Linked DNA regions of Homo sapiens. The main gene of each other region encodes a partner of the protein of the gene in region 3 in a complex. Each region holds a gene or a part of one and is shown on either strand. Other genes may lie near its edges. The genes, in order: POLR1E, POLR1B and POLR1F.

The links.
Region 1: POLR1F (region 3) and POLR1E share a complex: the UniProt entries of both Homo sapiens proteins name them as parts of the RNA polymerase I (Pol I) complex.
Region 2: POLR1F (region 3) and POLR1B share a complex: the UniProt entries of both Homo sapiens proteins name them as parts of the RNA polymerase I (Pol I) complex.

Annotation. Positions count from the first base shown.
Region 1 is NC_000009.12:37,481,869-37,488,947, forward strand, and holds the start of POLR1E (DNA-directed RNA polymerase I subunit RPA49), read left to right. Parts: upstream 1-4,079; 5' UTR 4,080-4,179; coding exon 4,180-4,255; intron 4,256-4,364; exon of another isoform or gene 4,365-4,572; coding exon of another isoform or gene 4,573-4,834; coding exon 4,835-4,938; intron 4,939-5,994; coding exon 5,995-6,071; intron 6,072-7,079. UniProt on the Homo sapiens protein: Component of RNA polymerase I (Pol I), a DNA-dependent RNA polymerase which synthesizes ribosomal RNA precursors using the four ribonucleoside triphosphates as substrates.
Region 2 is NC_000002.12:112,552,418-112,559,524, forward strand, and holds part of POLR1B (DNA-directed RNA polymerase I subunit RPA2), read left to right. Parts: intron 1-227; coding exon 228-399; intron 400-1,121; exon of another isoform or gene 1,122-1,273; intron 1,274-2,106; exon of another isoform or gene 2,107-2,162; intron 2,163-5,492; coding exon 5,493-5,664; intron 5,665-6,875; coding exon 6,876-7,107. UniProt on the Homo sapiens protein: Catalytic core component of RNA polymerase I (Pol I), a DNA-dependent RNA polymerase which synthesizes ribosomal RNA precursors using the four ribonucleoside triphosphates as substrates.
Region 3 is NC_000007.14:19,706,003-19,714,015, reverse strand, and holds the start of POLR1F (DNA-directed RNA polymerase I subunit RPA43), read left to right. Parts: upstream 1-4,978; 5' UTR 4,979-4,999; coding exon 5,000-5,253; intron 5,254-8,013. UniProt on the Homo sapiens protein: Component of RNA polymerase I (Pol I), a DNA-dependent RNA polymerase which synthesizes ribosomal RNA precursors using the four ribonucleoside triphosphates as substrates.

The DNA.
Region 1 (7,079 bases), on a different chromosome or scaffold from region 3:
ATGTAAGGAAAAAACCTGTTCAAGGTGAGAAGTCCACCTTTTAAGGAGTGAGTCATCCATGTGTGTAGGTATGCAAAGAGGGTCTGCATCAGGGATATGAAGGAAAGGAATGGGAATGACCAGAGGAGAGAACAAGAGAGTGAGACAAACACAGAGGGAGAAAGGAAGGGAGGAAAAAGAGAAGCAGAGGGACAAGAAAGGAAGAGAAGAGGTGAGACAGAAGAAGCTATTCTCGGCCGGGCGCGGTGGCTCACGCCTGTAATACCAACACTTTGGGAGGCTGAGGCAGGGGATCACGAGGTCAGGAGTTCAAGAGCAGCCCGACCAACATGGTGAAGCCCCATCTCTACTAAAAATACAAAAATTAGCCGGGCATGGTGATGCACGCCTGTAATCCCAGCTACTCAGGAGGCTGAGGCAGGAGAATTGCTTGAATCCGGGAGGCAGAGGTTGCAGTTAGCCGAGATCGCGCCACTACACTCCAGCCTGGGTGACAGAGCGAGACTCTGTCTCCAAAAAAAAAAAAAAAAAAAAAAAAAGAAGCCATTCCCCAGAGTACAGGGCGAGTCACTGCAAACAGTATGGAATCTGACTCGCCTTTTCAGGTCTTTGTTAGTGTTATCCTGAAACACCAGCAGATGGAGATATTACCCCAGGAAAGGAGGACTTTGCTTTTCTCCCTCTCCTTTTGCCCTCTGGAAAACCATTTTCCTTCTCTGAAAAATGATACTAAAAGAGAACTCCAGGTGTCTCTGAATTATTTCCAAACTAAATTTCCAAAAAAAATTATGTGGTAAATTTTGCCTGTGATTATCCACGATTTGAATATAAAAGAGGCCACCTGGCCAGGTGTGGTGGCTCACGCCTGTAATCCCAACACCTAGGGAGGCTGAGGCAGGTGGATCACTTGAGGTCAGGGGTTCGAGACCAGCCTGGCCAACATGGTGAAACCCTGTCTCTAACAAAACTACAAAAATTAGCCGGGCGTGGTGGTGGGCACCTGTAATCCTGGCTACTCAGGAGGCTGAGGCAGGAGAACTGCTTGGACCCAGGAGGCGGAGGTTGCAGTGAGCCCAGATCACACCACTGCACTCCAGCCTGGGCGACAAGAGTGAGACTCCGCCTCAAAAAAATAAATAAATAATTAAATAAAATAAAAAAATAAAAGAGGCCACTATAGGTTTTTGCATTTTGGTTAATGCCTATGTAGGGCTCCCTCCATCCTGCCCCATCCCACCTCCATCCTGCCCCATCCCAGTTACACAGGCACGTATGTATATGTACATGGTGTGTATAGGTGTGTCTTTTGAATAACTGTTAAATAATTAAACAACACAGGGGTATACTATGATCCCCTTCCCAGCTGCCTGACCATCAACACTTTGCTTCCACGGATAGAATCTCCGTCATTTGGAATTCTTGCCTGTGGTAATTCTAGGAGTTTTTGCTTCAGTGGGTGTGTTGTACTCTTCACTCTTTGTCCTCGCTACAAAACAGTCAATCCAGGGGACTTGCACATAATCTGTCTGACTGGCAAATATGTGCCTTAAAGGGGAATCAGTCCGGTATAACAGTGATTCCTAAACTTCAAGTGCACATGAATCACCTGCAGATCCTGTTGCAGAAGATTTGATAGGGTTGGAGATCCTATATTTCTAACAAGTTCCCAGGTGCTGTCGAGGCTGCTGTTTCCATGGACCACACTTTGAGTAACAAGGCCATACAATGTGTTCCTATATCATGAGTAACAAGGCCATATAATGTGTTCCTATATCACAAGATACTTCTCTTAAGAACTATACTTGGCTCATTGTAGCCACTGTTATCTTGGTCACCTTTAACTTTGATTTAACTGTTCATATTTTCATTCAACCAAAAAACATTTATAGAGTCTGTTATGTGTAAACCCTATGCTAGTTGATTTCAACCAATATTACCAAACATCTTTGAGTTCCAGTCCCTGTGCTAGGCTTCCAAGATTAGTGATAATTCAGGCCCATTCTTTGCCCTGTCATTCATTAATTCATTCCATATTTATTGAGGGTCTAGTATGTTCAGGATTTGGAGATAAAGCAGTGATCAAAACAAACATAAATTTGTTTATTAACCTCCAAAGTGTTTATTGTGAACCCCAAGTAAGTTTAGTGAGGAAACAATCAATGGGTGAGACAATCACACAATTAAGCTCTTCTTTCTTCATCCTTCTTTCTTCTTTCTTCTTCTTCCCTTTTCCTTTCCTGAACAATTCAATCCAAAATCATGAGGTGGGGTCAAGCAAGGTAGCCTTCTAAGGGAGGAAAGGCTATGAGAGCTAAATGCAACACATGATTCTTGACAGGACATTTTTGCTATAAAAACATGATTGGGCCAGCTGCAATGGCTCACGCCTGTAATCCCAGAACTTTGGGAGGCCAAGGTGGGAGGATCACTTGAGCCCAGGAGTCTGAGACCAGCCCTGGCAACACAGTGAGACCTAGTCTCTACAAAAAATTTTTTTAATTAAGAAAAAACAAAACAAAACTGAGTGTGGTGGCACACACTTGTATTCCCAGGTTGTGGTGAGAGGATCACTTGAGCCTGGAAGGTCAAGGCTGCAGTGAGCCCTGGTTGCAACACTGCACTCCAGCCTGGGTGACAGAGTGAGACCCTGTCTCAAAAAACAAACTAACAACAAACGTTGGGACAATGGGTGAACTTAAATGGGATGTGAGGATTACATGGTGGTAATGTACCAGTGCTAATTTCCTGATTCTTTTCTGTTTAATTTTTTTTTTTTTTTTTGTCGCCCAGGCTAGAGTGCAGTGGCACCATCACAGCTCACTGCAGCCTCTGCCTCCTAGGCTCAAGCAATCCTCCCACCTCAGCCTCCCGAGTAGCTGGGACGACACGCGTGCGCCACCACACATGGCTAATATTATTTTTTGTAGAGACAGGGTCTTGTTATGTTGCCCAGCCTGGTCTCAAACTCCTGGAATCAAGGGATAGAACTGCCTCTCCCTCCCAAAGTGCTGGGATTGCAGGCGTGAACCACTGCGCCCGGCAATTTGCTGATTCTGATGGCTGTGTTGTTATTTAGGGAATGTCTGTAGGAAATACTATAGTCTTCAGGGTTGAAAGGGTATCAGGTTGACAACTTACTCTAAATGGTTCAGGGCAAAAACATTTCTTGCAGTGTTTCTTTACGTTTGAGATTGGGTAATTAGAAAAGCGTGACAAGTGCTCAGGCAAAGGGGCATGCAGGCTTTAGGGTTATTCCTAGGATCCTGGGTGTTGGAGGCGGGTGTTGAGGGTGTGTGGAAGGAAAAGAGTCTTGAAAGAAGGTGATTTGGAAGACAGAGGGGAGTCAACCGGAGTTCTTGCCCTTCAATAGTACGCATCTTTGGGCAAAGGGGGCCTCGGCCAGCGTCCATGCTTAAAGGCCCTGCTTTCGCCTTCTTTCTGCTCTGAAAACTCCCCGTGCAGAAGAAGGGTTGAATCCGCAGTGAAAAAGGGACATGTCCATCAGCTCGGACTCCCTCTTCTATTCCAGTCCAGAATCTCCTGCCCAAAGGCTCCGGGGTTGGCTGGGCTTCTGTTCCATCACCTCAGTGTTGATTGGGCCACAGGTGTGCACGCCACAGCCCATGGCGGGGAGCTGTTTGTCGGACTGTGGACAAAGTTTGTACCTAGAGCTGGATGTCCACGTGGGTGGGTGGGAAGCCCTAGAGAGGGGCGGCTATTCGCCAGCGGCCACATTTAGTTGGGGCTCAAGCAGTTCCTGTCAGAGAATTCTAAATTTGAACTTGGTCCTTCAGGTCTTGGGAAGATGAGTTTGTCACGGTAGGAGAGAGAGACGACACTCTCTTTAGAAGGTGCTGAGCCGGAAGAAGGCTCATAGCAAGCTTAGGCTGAAGCCTTTGGCGCCTCGGGCTCTGGACCTACAAAACCCAGAGTGCACGCGAGCGCTGAGCCAATCAGGTGCTGCGCCTCGGCCAGTCAAGCGGGTGTGTGGCACCTTGTGGGCGGAGACCACGCCTCTCTACGCGGGGGGCGGGGACACGCGGCTCGCGCGCTGTGGGCGGTGCCCGGCGGGGCCACGCCTTTTCCGGCCCGCAGCGCGGCCTGGGCTCCCGCGTGTTTAAAAGTGCGCTTGTGGCTGCTGCTGTCTTAACTCCTGTGCTTGGCGGACAGACAGGCGAGATGGCGGCGGAGGTGTTGCCGAGTGCGAGGTGGCAGTATTGTGGGGCGCCCGACGGGAGCCAGAGAGCTGTACTGGGTAAAGACTGCGGAGCTGGAGCAGTGCTCCTCTAACCCTCTCCCCTTCCGTCTCGGTACCTCAGCTGTCCTCTCGCCCTCCGTTGGGCTTCTCCCCAGCGGGGCCGGGACCCCTCTAGTCTCCACCACTCCCCTGGGCTCTGTCAGGGCTCCCCTGTCCGTCTTTCTGTCACTACCTCCCAGCCAGATTGGGACATCCCACTCACCCGCTCCCCAGAGCTGTGTCCAGGACCCTGCTGACCCCCTCACCCACCAGGTCTCCCGCCTCCCCCATTTCCCTCTCTTCACTGGGCAGGGGTTCCTTCTGTCACTTTAGGTATGTACCAGGCCTCTGCTGTCAGCCTCCTTCCGCGAGACATTCCCTCCTGTCACAGCCCCTCCCCAGGGTTCTCCCACCTCCCTACCTCCTCTTCTCAGCTGGCCCCGGATCTCCTCCAGTTCCCTTTGGGTCAGGACCCGAGCTTCCTTGCCATCCCCATTCTGACACTCCCTCCCAGTGACAGTCTAGTCCCACCGTACATTGTGTGGTACATTGTGTGGCCTTCTGCTCTCATCTCATTCTTGGGCTGCACTCTTACAGTCCAGTTCTCCAACGGGAAGCTACAGAGTCCAGGCAACATGCGCTTTACCTTGTATGAGAACAAAGATTCCACCAACCCCAGGAAGAGGAATCAACGGATCCTGGTAAGTGAAGCAGTTGCCAGCTGTCTCCACTCTGCAGGGCTCAGAAGGCCCCTGGGAGTGGGTGGATGTGGGAGGGAGTGAGGGGAGAAAAAGGGGAGTAGTAGCAAATGGAGCTTTGAAGAACTCTGATGCCCAGCAGCCTGGGATGTGGGGACAGGCTCCATCTTTCATTCATTTGTTCTTTCAACAAGCATTTATGGAACCTGCCCCTCTGCATCCCTGTGCTGCAAGCTTCTAGGAAAACAGCCAAATCAGGCCTAGCCCCACTCAGAGTTCATACTCTAGAGCAGGGTTTCTCAACCTCAGGACTATTGACTTTTTGGGCCAATAATTCTTTGCTGTGGGGGCAGCATCCCTAGTCTCTACTCATTAGATGCCAGTAGCACCAGAGTGGATTTCCCTGGATTGAGAACCTCTGCTCTAGAGAGATGAGAACTGGCTGTGAGGGACACTTTTACACAAAGCTCTGAGGCCACGTGGGGAAGAGTACAGGGCAGAGTGAGCTCAGTGGGAGGAGAGGTCTCTGCCAGAATGCCTTCCTTGGTGAGGTCATGTTGGAGCTGAGCCTTGAAGGCTGGAATGAGGGTTTGGCAGTCAACGTTTGGTGTTTCGAGTGAAAAGGATAGTGAGGACAAATGCAGAGAAGCAGGAAAGCTTGCTTATGATTGGGGAGTGAATCAGCCATGGTCCTGAGAGTATACAAAGAACAGGCCAAAGAGAGATTGCTTACAGAATCACTTTGTTGCATACCTTTAAGTGCCAGAAGCCCAGGGCCTCTCTCTCAAGTCTTGTGGCAGAATTCCCCCAAGAGCTTTTCATACCATTTAGAAGCTAGCACCATCTGAGGCTTCTCTTCCAGAAGTCGTCTTGCTTCCCCTGCAGGGACACCCCATATTCCCTTAGAGATAGTGGGGCTGGATCATCTGCCAGAGATGAACTAGTTCTAATCCATTGTGAGTCTGGATTCAAAAGCCTCAGCAAATGTAGAAAAGAGAAATGATGCTTAATACCTTTCAACATTGGTTGTAAATGGAGTTTCCCCTCTCTGCATTTTAGGCAGCTGAAACAGATAGGCTCTCCTATGTGGGAAACAATTTTGGGACTGGAGCCCTCAAATGCAACACTTTGTGCAGGTAATGGCAGGGGAAGGGACAGTGGGAAGGGTGATGGGGTTGGGAGTGGTGGCAGCACTGGCACTGCTGTTTCCTGTCTGTTTTAAGGGTAGCAGGAGCCATCTAGAGAGGTTTACTAGGTGATCCCTGTGTTCCTATTAGACCCAGAGCCCTTCCCTGCACGTGTAGACGTTGCTGGAAAGGAAAGATAACTTGAATTTCCTAAAAACCTCATTCATTTGTAATCTTGTTTATTTATAGCTGTCTTATTCCAAAAGGCAGGTCTCTCCATTAATTTGGAATGTGTGACTAGTAGGTCAAAGCTTGCGTGAAGTTTACCTGGGAACTAACGACAGGTAAAGAACTTGGTAGTGTTGAAGGCTCTGGACTGGGAAAGAGGAGCCTGGGATTCCCATCCAGCTGTGCTGCTGATTGACTGAGTGGCTGGGTAACTCTGCGCATCACTGACCCCCAGCCTCCCCCTCTGTACAGTGAAGATTGTCCAGCCTGAACTGTATCACTCTCGGGGGCTGGCATGATGCAGACAGGGCCCTGTGATGGTACCCAACAATGAACTACAAACTAGGCCCTTTCTGAGCCCCGGTGGACCATACTCCAATAGAGGAGAGGTCAGATGGGTGTATAGGTGCTGAGAACTATTAACCCTGCACTCTCCCCTCTCAGAGATGCCCTAGTTCCAATTGGTCTCCTCCCCGTTTACTTGATTTTGCCTCCATAAAACTGTTGTGCCATAAATTGTAGTGTAATTCTAGGTTCGTACACCCCAAAAGAGTTTTCCATTACACTACCGCAGTGAGCCCAAATGTGATCAACTATCAGAATCACCTAGTAGCTTTTTTTTTTTTCCCAGAACCACCTCATATCCTCCCATCCCATCCTATCCTTTCCTATTCCCTCTCTATGCAGAGAATTGCTGTGGGGTAGGGGTAGGGGAGATTATTGTTACCCATGAGTAGATGATGCATTCCTCAGGTGTGTGGGCAGAGAGAAGGTTGAGAACTTTTGAAC
Region 2 (7,107 bases), on a different chromosome or scaffold from region 3:
ACTGTATAATTACTAAAGAAGCCAGCTCCATACTGGTGCTGTCCAGTGCATAGCCACCAGTCACATGATAAGCACTTCAAATGTGGCCAGTGTAGCTCAAAAACTGAATGCTTAATTTTATTTAATTAAAGTTAAGTAAGCATGAGTTGGGGATCTTGGTTAATAGAATATTAAGTAGTATTACCAACTGAATTGTTTTAAGCTTTTTTTTTTTTCTGTTTTCACAGCCAGTGCATCTGTATCCACTTGAAATCCAATACTGAAAAGTTTTATATGCTTTGTCTCATGACGCGAAAGCTCTTTGCTTTAGCCAAAGGAGAGTGCATGGAGGACAATCCTGATAGTTTGGTGAACCAGGAAGTCCTCACACCGGGTCAGCTCTTCCTTATGTTCCTGAAGGTAAATGCATGCTATGTCCACCCTTGGCCAGTGGTACCACTTGTGGAATGGCGTGACTTTGTCCAGCAGCACTGTTTTCTGCATGTTTATAGTTTCTAGTTTTGGCATTTTGTGTGGTCTCTTTTTTGTTTGTTCATTTAGCAGTAAGGGGATCAGAAATCCTGGCTTACACCAGGTTTGGAAATTTGCTTAATATTTTTATGTAAAGATCACATCAAATCTTGGTCACAGTGTTAATGATAAAAAGCAAATGGCCTGTATTTATACATATGGTTGATCCTCATTATTTGTAGATTCTGTATTTGTGAATTCACTCACTGGCTAAAATTTATTTGTAACCCTAATGTCAGTGCTCAGTGCTTTCATGATTATTCACATACATGAGCAGAGCAGTGAAGAATTTGGGTCTCCTGAGGCAAATGTTACAGCTGAGGCGGGGCAGGGCGATGCTCTGCTTTCCGGTTTCAGCTCATACTATAAAGAGGGTCCTTTTTGAGGTGCATTTGGTGCTATGTTTTTCACATTGTCGTGCTTCTTATTGGTGACTTTTTTGTTTTTTTTTGAGACAGGGTCTCAGCCTCAACCTCCCAGGCTCAAGCAATCCTCCCACCTCAGCCTCCTGAGCAGCTGGGACTATAGACATTCACCACCACACCCGGCTAATTTTTAATTTTTTTTGTAGAAACAGGGTCCCACTATGTTGTACAGGCTGGTCTCAAACTCCTGGGCTCATGTGATCCTCCTGTTTCAGCCTCCCAAAGTGATAGGATTGGAGACATGAGCCACTGAGCCTGGCCAGTTTTTGCTGTTTATAATGGTCCCCAAGCATAGCACTGAAGCGCTGTCTAGTGTTCAGTGTTAATGAATTAACAAGGTATGTTAAATAAGGTGCCTTTCAACAAAAGCTGACATTAAACAAGATTGTATATTGATCCGTTGACCAGAATGTTATGACCAGAGACTTGCAGGAACCCAGCCCTGTATTTTTCCCCAGGAGTAGTGGTTTTATATGTGTTAATTCAGTGTTCATTAGAACATAGCTACTGTGAGTAGTGAAATTTGACTGTAGATGTATATAGAGAGAAAGTTGGCATGGCACAAAAATGATTTCATAAGAATATTGATTCAGTGGCATTTTATATTTTGCATCTTATCCTCAAAAAGATGTAATCTAAGAGTTAATATATTTTTAGTAGAGGTGGGGTTTCACCATTTCAGCCAGGCTGGTCTCGAACTCCTGACCTCAGGTGATCCACCTGCCTCAGCCTCCCAAAGTGCTGGGATTACAGGTGTGAGCCACTGTGCCTGGCTTCTAATTTATTTTATTTTATTTTGAGACAGAGTCTTGCTCTGTCTCCCAGGCTGGAGTGCAGTGCTACGATCTCAGCTCACTGCAACCTCCACCTCCCGGGTTCAAACAATTCTCCTGCCTCAGCCTCCCGGGTATCTAGGATTACAGGCGCGTGCCACCATGCCCGGCGAATTTTTTTATTTTTAGTAGAGACGGGATTTCACCATGTTGGCCAGGCTGGTCTCGAACTCCTGACCTCAAGTGAGCCACCCACCTTGGCCTCCCAAAGTGCTAGGATTACAGGCGTGAGCTACCACACCCGGCCTTCTAATTTCTTATCTAGGTAGTAATTCTTATTTACATTCTTCCCGAAAGGTAATAATCTTTGTTTCTGTTTGCTCTGTCCATAAAATTAGATTGAAAAATTTCAGCAGCCTACAATTTTCCTGACAAAAATTGAAAGCAGGCAGCGTAAGTTTTCTCTTATTAATTTAATGTTATTAAATTAACCTTTCAAGTAAAGGTTAATTTACATTTCCCATCTACTTAAAGTGAAGCATGGTGGGCTCATTGTATTCCACACTTATAAATGTGTCTTTATTCCACATCAATTCCTAATTAGGAAAAAAAAGAAAAGAAAAAGAAATGAGACCAGGAGTACAGTGGCTCATGCCTGTAATCCCAGCACTTTGGGAGGCTGAGGCAGAAGGGTAACTTGAGCCCAAGGAGTTTGAGACCAGCCTGGACAGCACAGAGAGATCGCTACAGAAATAATAAAAACTATTAGCAGTGGCTGGGTGTGGTGGCTCACGCCTATAATCCCAGCACTTTGAGATGCCAAGGTGGGTGGATCTTCTGATCTCAGGAGTTCAAGACTAGCCTGGGCAACATTGCAAAACCCTGTCTCTACAAAAAATATAAAAATTAGCTGGGCATGCTGGCATGCTGCAGCAATTCCAGCTACTCAGGAGGCTGAGGTAGGAGAGTTGCATGAGCCTGGGAGACGGAGGTTACAGTGAGTTGAGATCACGCCACTGCACTCCAGCCTGGGCGACAGAGCAAGACCCTGTCTCCAAAAAAAACCTGTTAGCTGGGCATGGTGGTACATGACTGTGGTCCCAGCCACTTGGGAGGCTGAGGTGGGATCCCTGAGCCCAGGAGGTCAAGGCTGCAATAAGGGGTGATTTTGCCACTGCACTCTAGCCTGGGCAAAAGAGCAAGACCTTATCTCAAAAAGAAAAAAGAAAAAAACACCTGGTGCGGTGGCTCACACCTGTAATCCCAGCACTTTGGGAGGCCGGGGTGGGAGGATCACTTGAGCCCAGGAGTTTGAGATCAATCTGGGCAAACAGCCCAGAGACAAAACTTCGTCTCTACAAATAATTTTAAAAAAATTTAGCCAGGCCTGGTGGGCCACACCTGTGGTCCCAGCTACTCAGCAGGCTGAGGTAAGAGGATTGCCTGAGCCCAGGCGGCGGAGGATGCAGTGTGCTGTGATCACGCCAGTGCACTCCAGCCTAAGTGACAGAGCAAGACCCTGTCTCAACAGAAAAAAGAAATGAGTCTTCTGTAGCAAGGCGTTACTAAGGTGACCTGTGTCAGCAACAAGAGAAACCAAGGGAAAATTGGGGCTTTTTCAGAGAATTCATTGCCGAGTATCTGATTTCCTTACCAGCTACGTTAAAGCTTTTAAACCTTTGAGTTTGGAGCATAAAAACAATCTTCAGAAGATACATAACCATGACATAAGATGAATTATAGACTGTTAAAAATTCACATTGTATTTACATTGAAATAAGCAATATAAAATTGAAAAATAGCAACCATATTTTCTGTATTATTGTAGATTAACCATAAAACACTTCAGTTAGCCTTTCTGGTTTTGATTTTAAACCCAAATAAGGAAGTAGACATAGTTATGAAAAAAAAGGGAGAAGAACACAAACAAATCAGTTGTCAAGATCCAGGGCTTCTTATTCCATCTTGACTGTGAAGATGAAGTGTTCAGTGTACACCTGATAAAAACATTTATGACACAGGAAGATGTAGGCTCAAGAAAGGAATCTAAACAGCAACCAGCAGAGGTGGAGCAGTGATGCCAGGCTCTTCTACTCAAACTTGATTCTCTAGTTTCACTTGATAAAGTCCAAACCTACATTAATACCCTTGTTGGGTGAGCTAACAGCTTCCTTCACTCCCTGGTAATTCCCTTATCTGTACATTACAGATTTTTAGCAGTGTACTTACAAATCCTACTAGTGTGTAGTCAGTTGTGAGATTCATTGTAACATTTTATAAAATATATTCCTTCTTCCCACACCTCTCCAAAATTTATTCCTTCCAAGTACTAAAAATTTAATATTACTGCACCACAGTGATATTAAATGCAGTGTCAGTGCCAGAGAATATGCAGAAATGAAATGTGTCACTTCCAGTGCTGTCTTCTGGAAGAATAGTTAGGTCTTCCAAGTGTGAGTGTTCAAACACTGATAGTTTGAAGAGGTGGATTATCAATAGTCAATGGCTAATGTGTTGACTCAGGGGCCTGCTGGAAAAGGTATACATGAGTGACCTATGTACATCTTCCACGTTTTCTTCCAAATATCAAATATAGGAGAGAACCTATCTCAAACATTCTCTTAGGTATTTTCAGTGGTTTCTGAACCACCCATAGAAAGCGCTGATGGTGTATAGTCTTTTTTTCTTTTATTTTTAGTTGACATGTAATAACTGTACATATTTATCGGGTATACAGTGATTTTTCCATATATGTCAATAATGTATAATGATCAAATCAGAGTAATTAACACATTCATCACCTCAAACATGTATCATTTTTTTGTGTTGTGAACATTCGAAATCCCCTCTTCTAGCTTTTTGAAAATATACAATAAGGCTGGGTGTGGTGGCTCACGCCTGTAATCCCAGCACTTTGGAAGCTGAGGCAAGAGGATTGCTTGAGCCCAGGAGTTTGAGACCAGCCTAGGCAACAAAGTGAGACCCCCATCTCTACAAAAAAAATTTAAAAATTAGCCAGGCATGGTGGCACATACCTATGGTCCCACCTACTTAGGAGGTTAAGGCAGGAGAATCCCTTGAACCCAGGAGGTTGAGGCTGCAGTGAAAAAATATACAACAAATATAGTTAACTGTATTCAACCTACATTGCTGCAGAATACCAGAACTCATTCCTCCAGTCTAGCTGTAATTTTGGAATTGCAGGCTGCTTTAGGCTTTTCACTTAGTGTTGGCAGCATAGATTAAGATGGACTGTGTAGTTCGTGTGATTGGTTTTAGATGTATAACAAGTATAATGGGTGAAGGAGGGCATCACATTGAAGAGCTATCCTTTCTGCACCTGAAAAGCCCTCTTTCAGGTTTTTGGTTTTGATGTATGTTAGTAGACGTTTGTTAAAGATCGTACAGATTACATGGGAATAAATATGAAGTTTGTGATAATTGAAACACATACTATTTTATTTTATTGAGAATAGGGTCTTGCCCTGTTTCCCAGGCTGGAGTGCAGTGGCACAGTCATGGCTCACTGAAGCCTTAGGCTCCTGGACTCAAGCGATCCTTCCGCCTCAGCCTCCCAAGTAGCTGGAACTACAGGCACGCCCCACCCCCTCACCCCACCCCCTCTGGCTAATTTTTTTGTAGACAGGGTTTTGTTTCACCATTTTGCCCAGTCTCATGTTGAACTCTTGGTCTCAAGCGATCCACCCAATCCTGGGATTATAGATGTGAGCCACCACACCTGGCTCACATACTATTTTATATTAATTTTTTTTCCTTATTTCAGGAAAAACTGGAAGGTTGGTTAGTGTCTATTAAAATAGCTTTTGATAAGAAGGCTCAGAAGACCAGTGTTTCCATGAACACTGACAATTTGATGAGGATTTTTACAATGGGCATAGACCTTACAAAACCATTTGAATACCTTTTTGCTACTGGGAATCTGCGTTCTAAAACAGGTAAAATTAAATCGATCGTTTTAGTTATGTTTTTCAAATTAGTTGCTTAGTGTAGATTTGCCTGTCCCTGAGAGTTCTTTTTAAAAGCAAACCCCACGAAAAAAGTAAATTTCTCATAACTATGACTTCGACAACTATTGGTCTAAAGGGCTTTAGACAAGGTGTCTGTATAGCTAAAATTTAATTCAGATAACTGAATACATTTTCTCTGCTTCCTTCTAGAAAATGAAAGGCCACTTAGACCTCTGAGGAAGGCTTACCTAACAGGAACTCTAGATGGGTTGCTGTACATGCCCATCTCTAAACCATTTGCCTTGCCTCAGAGTGACCTGAGAGGCCAGGTGTGGTGGCTCATGCCTGTAATCCCAACACTTTGGGAGACCAAGGTAGGAGGGTCACTTGATCCTAGGAGGTCAAGGCTGCAGTGAGCTGTGATTGCACCACTGTACTCCAGCCTGGTGACAGAGTGAGACCCTGTCTCAACAAAAAAGAGAATGACCCTAGAAACTTAAAAAGTGGTAATTGGGAATTCAGAATTTTTTTTTTTTCTTTTTTGAGTCAGGGTCTCACTCTGTCACCCAGTCTAAAGTGCAGTGGCAGGATCATGGCTCACTGCAGCCTTGACTTCCCAGGCTCAGGTGATCCTCCGACGTCAGCCCCACGAGTAGCTGTGACTACAGGCATAAGCCACAACACCTGGCTAATTTTTGTATTTTTTGTAGAGATGGGGTTTCGCTATGCTGCTGAGGCTGGTCTGGAACTCTTGAGCTCTGGTGAACCACCCACCTTGGCCTCCCAAAGTGCTGGGATTATAGCATGAACCACTGTGCCCCGCCTTTTTTTTTTTTTTTTAAACCCATGTTACTGTTGCCGATTCTTTCATTAGCCTGCTTTCTTGCTTGTCTATTATCTGACTCTCTCAGATGAATTTAACTACTTGCTATTTTATTAACTCATTTAATGTTCACCCACAAAGGAGGTCATAGAGGAGACAGGGAACTAGTTGGGGCTAATACAGTTTGTGAAATCTGGGGATTATTTTACATATTTTTTTGTGAACTCTTTACACTCATCAGAGCTAGGAGAATAAATGTTGTAATAATTCATTCTATGATCTGTAGAGTGCTCTGAGGTTTTGTCGTCATAAAGCCTCAACAATTTCCATTTTTCAAAAGATTGGCCCATTTTTGAATGACTTTTGTTTTATTAAGGTCTTGGCCTCCTACAAGATTCTGGACTTTGTGTTGTGGCTGACAAGCTGAACTTCATACGCTACCTCTCCCATTTCCGCTGCGTGCACAGAGGGGCTGATTTTGCCAAGATGAGGACCACCACAGTACGCAGGCTGCTGCCAGAGTCCTGGGGCTTCCTTTGTCCCGTGCATACCCCAGACGGGGAGCCCTGTGGCCTGATGAACCACCTAACTGCCGTATGTGAGGTTGT
Region 3 (8,013 bases):
TTCAGAGTCAAAAATTTATCCTAAGTTCTCTGTTGAAGAAGGATTGTAGATAAAAACAAGCCATCAATAAAGTTTCCCTTCACTTTTGTCATTTCTACAGTCCTTAAGCTAAAGCAAAACTTTACAAATTTAAGCTCATTTTTGCCATCTGCTGGCAAATTTGTGAAACACAAGTGGTCTGCATCAACAAACATTTGGTTGATATACCCTGTATTATATATATTTCGGCTAAAACTGGTGCTTGTTTGACACCTTTCCAATCCTACTAAAATGTTAATATTTACCAATTTGGTCAAATATCTTACCTTAGCACTTTTCTAGGCAGAGACTAAATAAAATAAACCATCAATTTTTACAATTTCCTTCTTCATCAGTTTTTGATATAGACATAGAAAAAGTGAGGATCTTTAGTGATTCAAAGCATAAATTATGGGATAACTCATGCCTGGGTTAGATTCCTTTATTGATAAATCGCTGGGTATTCTTGGGAAAGTCATTGGTTCATTCACTCAAGGAGTATGCATTAGGCCCTGGGCATATGACTGTTAGCAATACAGAGAGGATAGCTACCATCATGAGGCTGACATTTCTTTTAGAATACAGGCTTCTCGCTTGTAAATATATGTCATTAGTGTAATCAATTCATAAAGATTATCTGTCAGTGATTTACCTAGGGCACTTGGCATAGCATCTGGCAGGTTTGTAGTAAAGTTTACCTGTGATAATGTTGGTCATTGTGATGTTGACACTCATCACTCATTCCACCAATTTGATATAAACAGTCATATAAGTGTGATTAAATCCTTCCTGTCAGTACTAGTATTGCTCTTTATCCAGGGTGGGCATTCCTAGGGACGTATATACCCCTGATATATGACAGAAGAAGCTTCTGAGCCTCTCTGAGGCAAAGAACAAAGTACATGAGATCAGATGTACCCCATACATTGGATTGACATTGTGGAAGTTCTAGAGTCTAGACAGAAGGTCTTGTGTGCTTCCTGCTCTATCTTGGAAATCTGCATAGCTGCCAGGAGAGCAAGCTCACTCTAGCCTGCTGGAACACCAGACACATGGGGCCACACATGAGGACAGATGCACAAGTGAACCCAACTGAGTGCTGCCCAAATTTGTACCCATAGAATTATGAGTTAAATTAATAGTTTTATTTAAAGCCACTACATTTGAGGATAGTTTGTTATGCAGCAAAAGCTAACTGATACAATGACATTTTTCATGGAATGCTCTTTATAGGAATTTTTTATGCAAACCATTACATATAGTCAAAAATTCCTGTCTGATTCCATCTTCACATAATCCTACTGTAATAATTTTAGCTTTTTGAAAAATGAAAGAAATGTGCCTAACATCACACATCTAGTAAGTGACAGAGCCAGGATATGAACTCAAGCAATGTGACTTTAGCATCTAGGAGGCTCTTCTCCTTGTATTAAGGCTGGTGCAAAAGTAAGCGTCATTTTTCCCACTAAGAGTAATGGCAAAACCCACAATTACTTTTGCACCAACCAACACTATTAAATCATCTAAAACTAGAGTATGTCCTGTAACAACTTAAATCTTCTGATTAAGTTTCTGATTTTTTTCTGTATAAACATTAAAATAATATATAAAAATTCACAAAAATAAAAGGAAAGTATAAATTCATACTCAAGAGATGACTAACTTTAACATATGGTATAGACATGTGTCGCTTAATGACAAGGATACATTCTGAGAAATGCATAATGAGGCAATTTCATCATTGCATGAACATCATAGAGCATACTTACATAAATCCAGATGACATACCTTACTACACACTTACGCTATATGATGTGCTATGCTAATCTCCTCCTTTATCAGCTTTGGTCATGTACATAGAAAATGTGAAGATCTTTAGTAATTGAAAGGATAAGTTATGGCATAAGTCATGCCTGGGTTAGATTCCTTGATTGATAAATAGCCTATTGCTATTTAGCTGGTTGATAAATAGCCTGTAGCCTATTGCTCCTGGTCTACAAACCTGGACAGCCTGTTACTGTACTGAATACTGTAGGAAACCGTAACACAGTGGCAAGTATTTGTGCAACTAAGTATATCTAAACATAGAAACGATACAGTAAAAAGACATGGCATTATAAACTTACAGGGCCACCGTCATATAGATCAGCTGTTGTTGACCTAGATGCATGAATACAATCATGTGCCCCATGATTTTTTTCTAAGCATATAAATGTGCATGTGTTCTGTAACAATCAGAGCATATGTCACATATTACTTTGTAACCACCATTATTTATTTCAGCAAACCACCAATTTTTGCACATTTATGTTGCTCCAGGGATTATCTGATTGTGAGGAATAGAAACACACTAATATAATAAGGTATATGTGTGTGCATGCTGGAGGTGGCAAGGTCAGTGATAAAATAATACAGACAGTTGCACAGGAAATTTTCTCTCTCTTCCTCTGAGGCCATTGGTCATGGGGTCAAAATTATTTCTAACTTTCTTTCTCCTCCTTGTAGAATGAAGATCTTCTCAGCACATTGCCTTTGACTTGACAGAGCTTTTCATGAGACAGGGACCACCAATGCCTTACTTTTTGTGGAACTTGGACAAATTTTAGAGAAAAATAAAATGGTTCAGTTCAACTACAGGTCTTTGAACAAATAAACTTTGTATATGTCTGCAGGGTAGGGTAGGTAGGAGGAACTCATGGTTATTTCTGTTTTCTTCCCTGTGTCGAAGGTGGAGCAGGTTAATTTGTAAAGTAACCCCACAATGGTGAACACTGGCATGCAGGCAGAATCACCTTGTTCGCTCTCAAATCATGCAGAGCATGGATAGCAGCTAATGATCAAGTCAGAATTTTTAAAACTGAAAATGAGAAAATCAGTTTCAAAATTTAAACAAGCAAACTTCTAACTGCAACTGGACATACCTAGGGTTACAAAACTACTGCATGGGTGCACTACATTTACTAGTTGTGAAAGATTATTACTGGAATATTTGATTTCAGGTAACGTTTTGTTTTGATCAAATTGTCATGATGTCCAGCTTGTTTTTTACTAAATTCTTTCTTGGCCAAATTGTTTTCATTCAAATCACTTACAGCCAGTCTAGATCCATCTTGACTGTAAGGTGTAGTCACCTGGAGAGGTTTTGATTGAATTGATCTGTGATGTCATCCGGGCATCAGGAGTTCTTAAAGCTCCTCACCTTAGGTGACTTCATTGTTTAGCCAAGTTTGAGCACATTGAACAAAAGGGTCCTGCACAGGGGTATCACAGGACTTTGCAACAAAATGAAGGTAAAAGCCATTATGTTTCCCATTTATGGACTTAAAAGTGTCTACTATTAGGTTTTGGGGGCAGTCTCATCCCACTATCATCTCATGCTGAGTTTGCAGTTATTTAAGGAATATTAAAGAAAATGCCTTTTATTTATCTTGTTTGACCCTCCTATCATCTCTCTAAGGTAGCAGGGCAAGTATTATTTTTCGTATTTTACAAGTCAGAAATCAGGTTTAGAGAGGCTAAGAGGCTTTTTGCAGTATTTAGGAGATGAGGGAGTATGTTAATACTCACATCACTGCTATACATTTCTCTTGGCACTTATCCAGCATAACCTGTTATATGTTTATGTTTAGATCCCACTTCCACTTAGGCTGTGAGCTCTTTATCACTTATTATTTATTAACTCACTATCAGGTTATTCATTCAAGATGTATTGGTTGGGTTTTTCTTGGTTTCGTTTCTTTGGAGGAGGGATAAATTGTGGGGGGCTACTGTAGTGAACAATACAGATATTATGGTCCCCACTTTAGTGAGTGTAGGAATCTATTGATGGAACAGGCAAGCAAAGACAGTTAATAAAAAATTAACATAAAAACCAACATAGATGGGTAACTACCTAATCCTTATAGAGAAAGAGGAGTGGGGTGCTTGAAAACTCTTTGCAAAGGTATAGAATGTAAAATCTAAGCTAGAAATTCATACATGAGTAGAATTTACCCTTGTGAAAAATGCTATTATATTCCCTGGTGGAAGGAACAGCGTGAGACTGCACAAAGAGAGACCTGAAAGTAGATCAAGCAGCATGATAATATTAGGGTGGGGAGTGTGACAAATGAAGCTGAAGAGAGAGGCTGTGTGCCCACGCAGATCACAAAATGGCCTTGTAACTTATAAGCCATTTTCATGAGTTTGTGTTGTCCTAGAGAAAATGGGGTGCCTATGTAGGGCTTAAACAGGGCACAACACGATCATATGTATTTCAGGGAAGATCTGGCTGCCCCAGAGTGTCCTCCTGACCATTGAGCTAGGCTTCCACAGGCAGGGAGTCCTGCGGTTTTGGCGGCAGGGAAAGAGAATAGTGTCCAAATAGAATGATATTTCCACTTTGGGCAATACAGGTCTTCAGGCTGATTTGATACTTGGGGATACAAAAGAGGATCCGAGGCTGACAGCTTGGCTGTATGATTCCCTGATTTAGCAGTTGCATAATGAGAAGAGAAGCGGGACAGGAGAGAACTAGTGGGTTCGTTTTCAGATGCGTTGCATTACAATTATCAGGCCTGCTTAGGATTCCGTGTACTGCATAAAATATACTCCATAAATATTTTGATTTTTTATTGTACAGTCCAAGCCTGTAAAATTCTACCAAACCCACCTCACTACTGGAAATGATCAAAGTGAGAACCCCCATTTTTAAGCTACCTACTTAATCCAATAAGCCTCTGTGCGAAAACACACATTTGCCTGCCCTTAAAAGAGCAGTCGGTTGGCTTTCCTGCGTGCTCAATGCATTTCCGAGGCTCTAAGCTCCCGTTCTCGAAGCGCGAAAACGCGGTTCCCCCTGCTGGTCAGGGCTGCGTAATGCAGCGAAAAGAGGGGAAATTCCTAGGGGCGTGGTCGTTGGTGGATGGCGTAAAACGAGCGCCGGGGACATGGGATTGTGCTTGCGTCAACGGCGCGCGCCGTGGGAACCTTGACAAGCAGCATGGCTGCAGGTTGCTCAGAGGCGCCGCGGCCAGCGGCGGCTTCTGATGGGTCTCTGGTAGGGCAGGCTGGCGTCCTGCCTTGCCTAGAGTTGCCGACTTATGCCGCTGCTTGTGCGCTGGTGAACAGTCGCTACTCATGCCTGGTGGCCGGGCCGCACCAAAGGCACATCGCGCTGTCGCCCCGCTACCTTAACAGGAAACGCACCGGCATTCGAGAACAGCTTGATGCGGAGCTCCTTCGCTATTCTGAGAGGTACCGATCTCTTTGCCTGTTCCTTCTTTTGTGCACGGGAAGTAAAGCAGGTGGATGTGCTGACGACGCAGCAGAAAGGGGCAAATGGCAAAGGTCGCATTGCCCCCCAGAGCTTAGCCCCCTGGATTTCTAGAGTCGCGATCCGTCCCTCAAGGCCAGTACCGCTCTGGTAAAGATCTATACAGGGTCCCTTTCATAGATAGAGAAGAAAACTTAAAGATGAAGTTCAGGTGTGGGCGGAGGGAGTGGAGATTCTTGCTCCAGAACCCTGGTGTAGGGGTAGGAAAAGACCAGGGATCTGGAGACCTAGTAGGCCCAGTTCTGTTTGGCATTCAACGTTTCATTTATCCCCTTACGGATGATGCTTTCTCATTTGACGATAAAAATCTGGTTTGCAGTGCTTGAGTAGATTCTCATTCCATAGAAGATAGCATACGAAGCATTAGTACAACCGTTCTATTTGTAAAACATGAAGGACCTTTTTTGTTGTTGGATTTCGCTCTGGTAATTTCCCCATTTTCTCTTCTCTTGGACCTGATCTGGGGATTATGAAAATGCCATTAGTTTAGCGGGATTTTGTTGTTTTTAAGAAGATTTATTCAGTCGAACTAGTGAGCCTGTTGCTTTGGGGAGAGAAAAAACCAAAACGTATGCATTTATATTACGGTATTCAAAAGTGACTTGAAAACTTAGAATTACAGAGGTGTGGGGCGGGGGGCGCGGGCATGTGCTTGAGTATTCCTCTGGACTATACTTTGGTTTAAAAGCGGGGTTCTAAAACTAGAGGGAATGGATTCTCTAGGGATTCATGATTGCCCTTCAGGAATTCCTATGTGAAGTTCCTTGGGCACTGCATCGGAAGTTTTTATCAGTTTCTTAAGGGATCCTGGACCTCCACCCATGTCTAGAATCTGCAGATTCTTCCAAGCACCAATATACACTTCTTGTATGTTTATATTACATACCGAACACTTGAGATACAAAAACAAAAAATAAAATCTCTGTTTCAAGGAGCTTTAAGCTGTAGGAGAGATACAAATACAAGCCAATAAATAGTAAAGTGTTAAAATTTGACAGAAATCTAATAAGATAAGGAGTGTAGAATTTGGATCTTGGGACCTTTGAGAACAACTTGATTGAAGAGGGTACTTTAACATGGTAACATTCCAGGCAAAGAGAGTGGCATAAACAAACGGATACTGGATGTGAACTGGTATGCTTTGCCCAGAGAACTGTATCTATTATATAAGTAGAATAAGGTTTATGTCAGGGGAAAGGCATTGGATGCCATTGGAGAGGAGGGCAGGGGGTCAAAGATGACTCAGAGAGGATGGCCATTTTGCTTTTCCCTTCCTGCCATTGCCAGTTTTTGTTATTTTGGGGGTAAGGTGGGGTTGTTGTTGTTTTTCCTTTTGTGTTTCTGTTTTCTTAAGCAGGGTTAGTGCTCCGTCCTCTCAGTCCCTTTAACGCTGAGACTTGGCACACTTTTGAGAAACTAGTACTTCTCTGCAGTCCCTGGCATATCAGATTTGCAGTTTAAGAAACAACATTTACTTAATGGTTAGCTACCAAATAGGATGAGAAAGTGGACAAGGAGAGGAATTAAGATAATGTTATAATTGTCCAAGAGAAAATGATTAGAGAGGATGGATTTGAGAAATTAAAGGATATACAAAGTAGTCATAACATTTGGAAACACAAGCAACTATCTTGTTTTCTGTAACCAGTACTGCCTGCACTTGACAGGCTAGAGGGGGAAATCACGCAGAGTGGCTCTGAACAGATCTGGACACCACTCCTTCCATATTACTTGGGTATGCTGTTTATTCAAGTGCAAATCAGGCACCACACTTTGAACTATGCATTACTAATAAGGGACAAAACATTGAACATATAGTATTAAAGAACTGAAGTGAGGCTACCACCTTGCCCTGATACCTATTTAGGATGGTATCTGAAAAACAAAAGTGAAGGAGGAAAAAGTATATAGTGTTGGGTGCCTGTGTTCACATATCTGATGACTTTTAACAAAATCCCCCTTGAATTTATATACTGCTAAGTTCCTGAAAATTTTAATATATATTAAAACTGTGCAAAGATGACTTTGTGTTGATGTGTTTTAAGAGTTAAATTAGGTGCCTAGCTATTTGTAAATAGATTTGTCCTTTTATTCAAAAGTCAGAGCGAAGGACATTTCCTCATTGTATCAGACTGTCCTGTACATGACAGACTCTTTTCTTCCCTGGCTTCTGCAAAGTTTGTGATAACCATGACTAGTATCACAAATTTCCACATGTCCCCCCTTCCACCAGGGGACCACAGCCCTCCTTCCCCTTGAGAATCACTCTGATACTTGAGAGACAAGGCTTTGATTAGCGGAAATAAAGTCTTGATAATTTGTTTTTCTGTCTAGTATGGCAGTTAATTTTTCTTCCTATTCTCTGTTTTCTGTGTCCCTAACATTGTCTTAGTGATAGGATGATTCCAGCTTAGGAATGCCACATGCGGAAATTAAAACCTCAGAAAATTGCTTTCCCGAGTAAGTCTCTGAGTTAGGGTTTTCCTAATTTGGTAATTCTTAAAGTGTATTTTCTGTGGCTTCTGGCTGTTTTACTAAACAACATCTGTTAGGGATAAATTCTTTCCCTTATTTTATGTGAATTGTTAGAAGTTTGAGTTCAACAAAAAATATTCTTTGCTATCAAAGGCCTTAGAGTCATGTGTGAAATTCAAACATATATACAGATAGGTTCAATACAA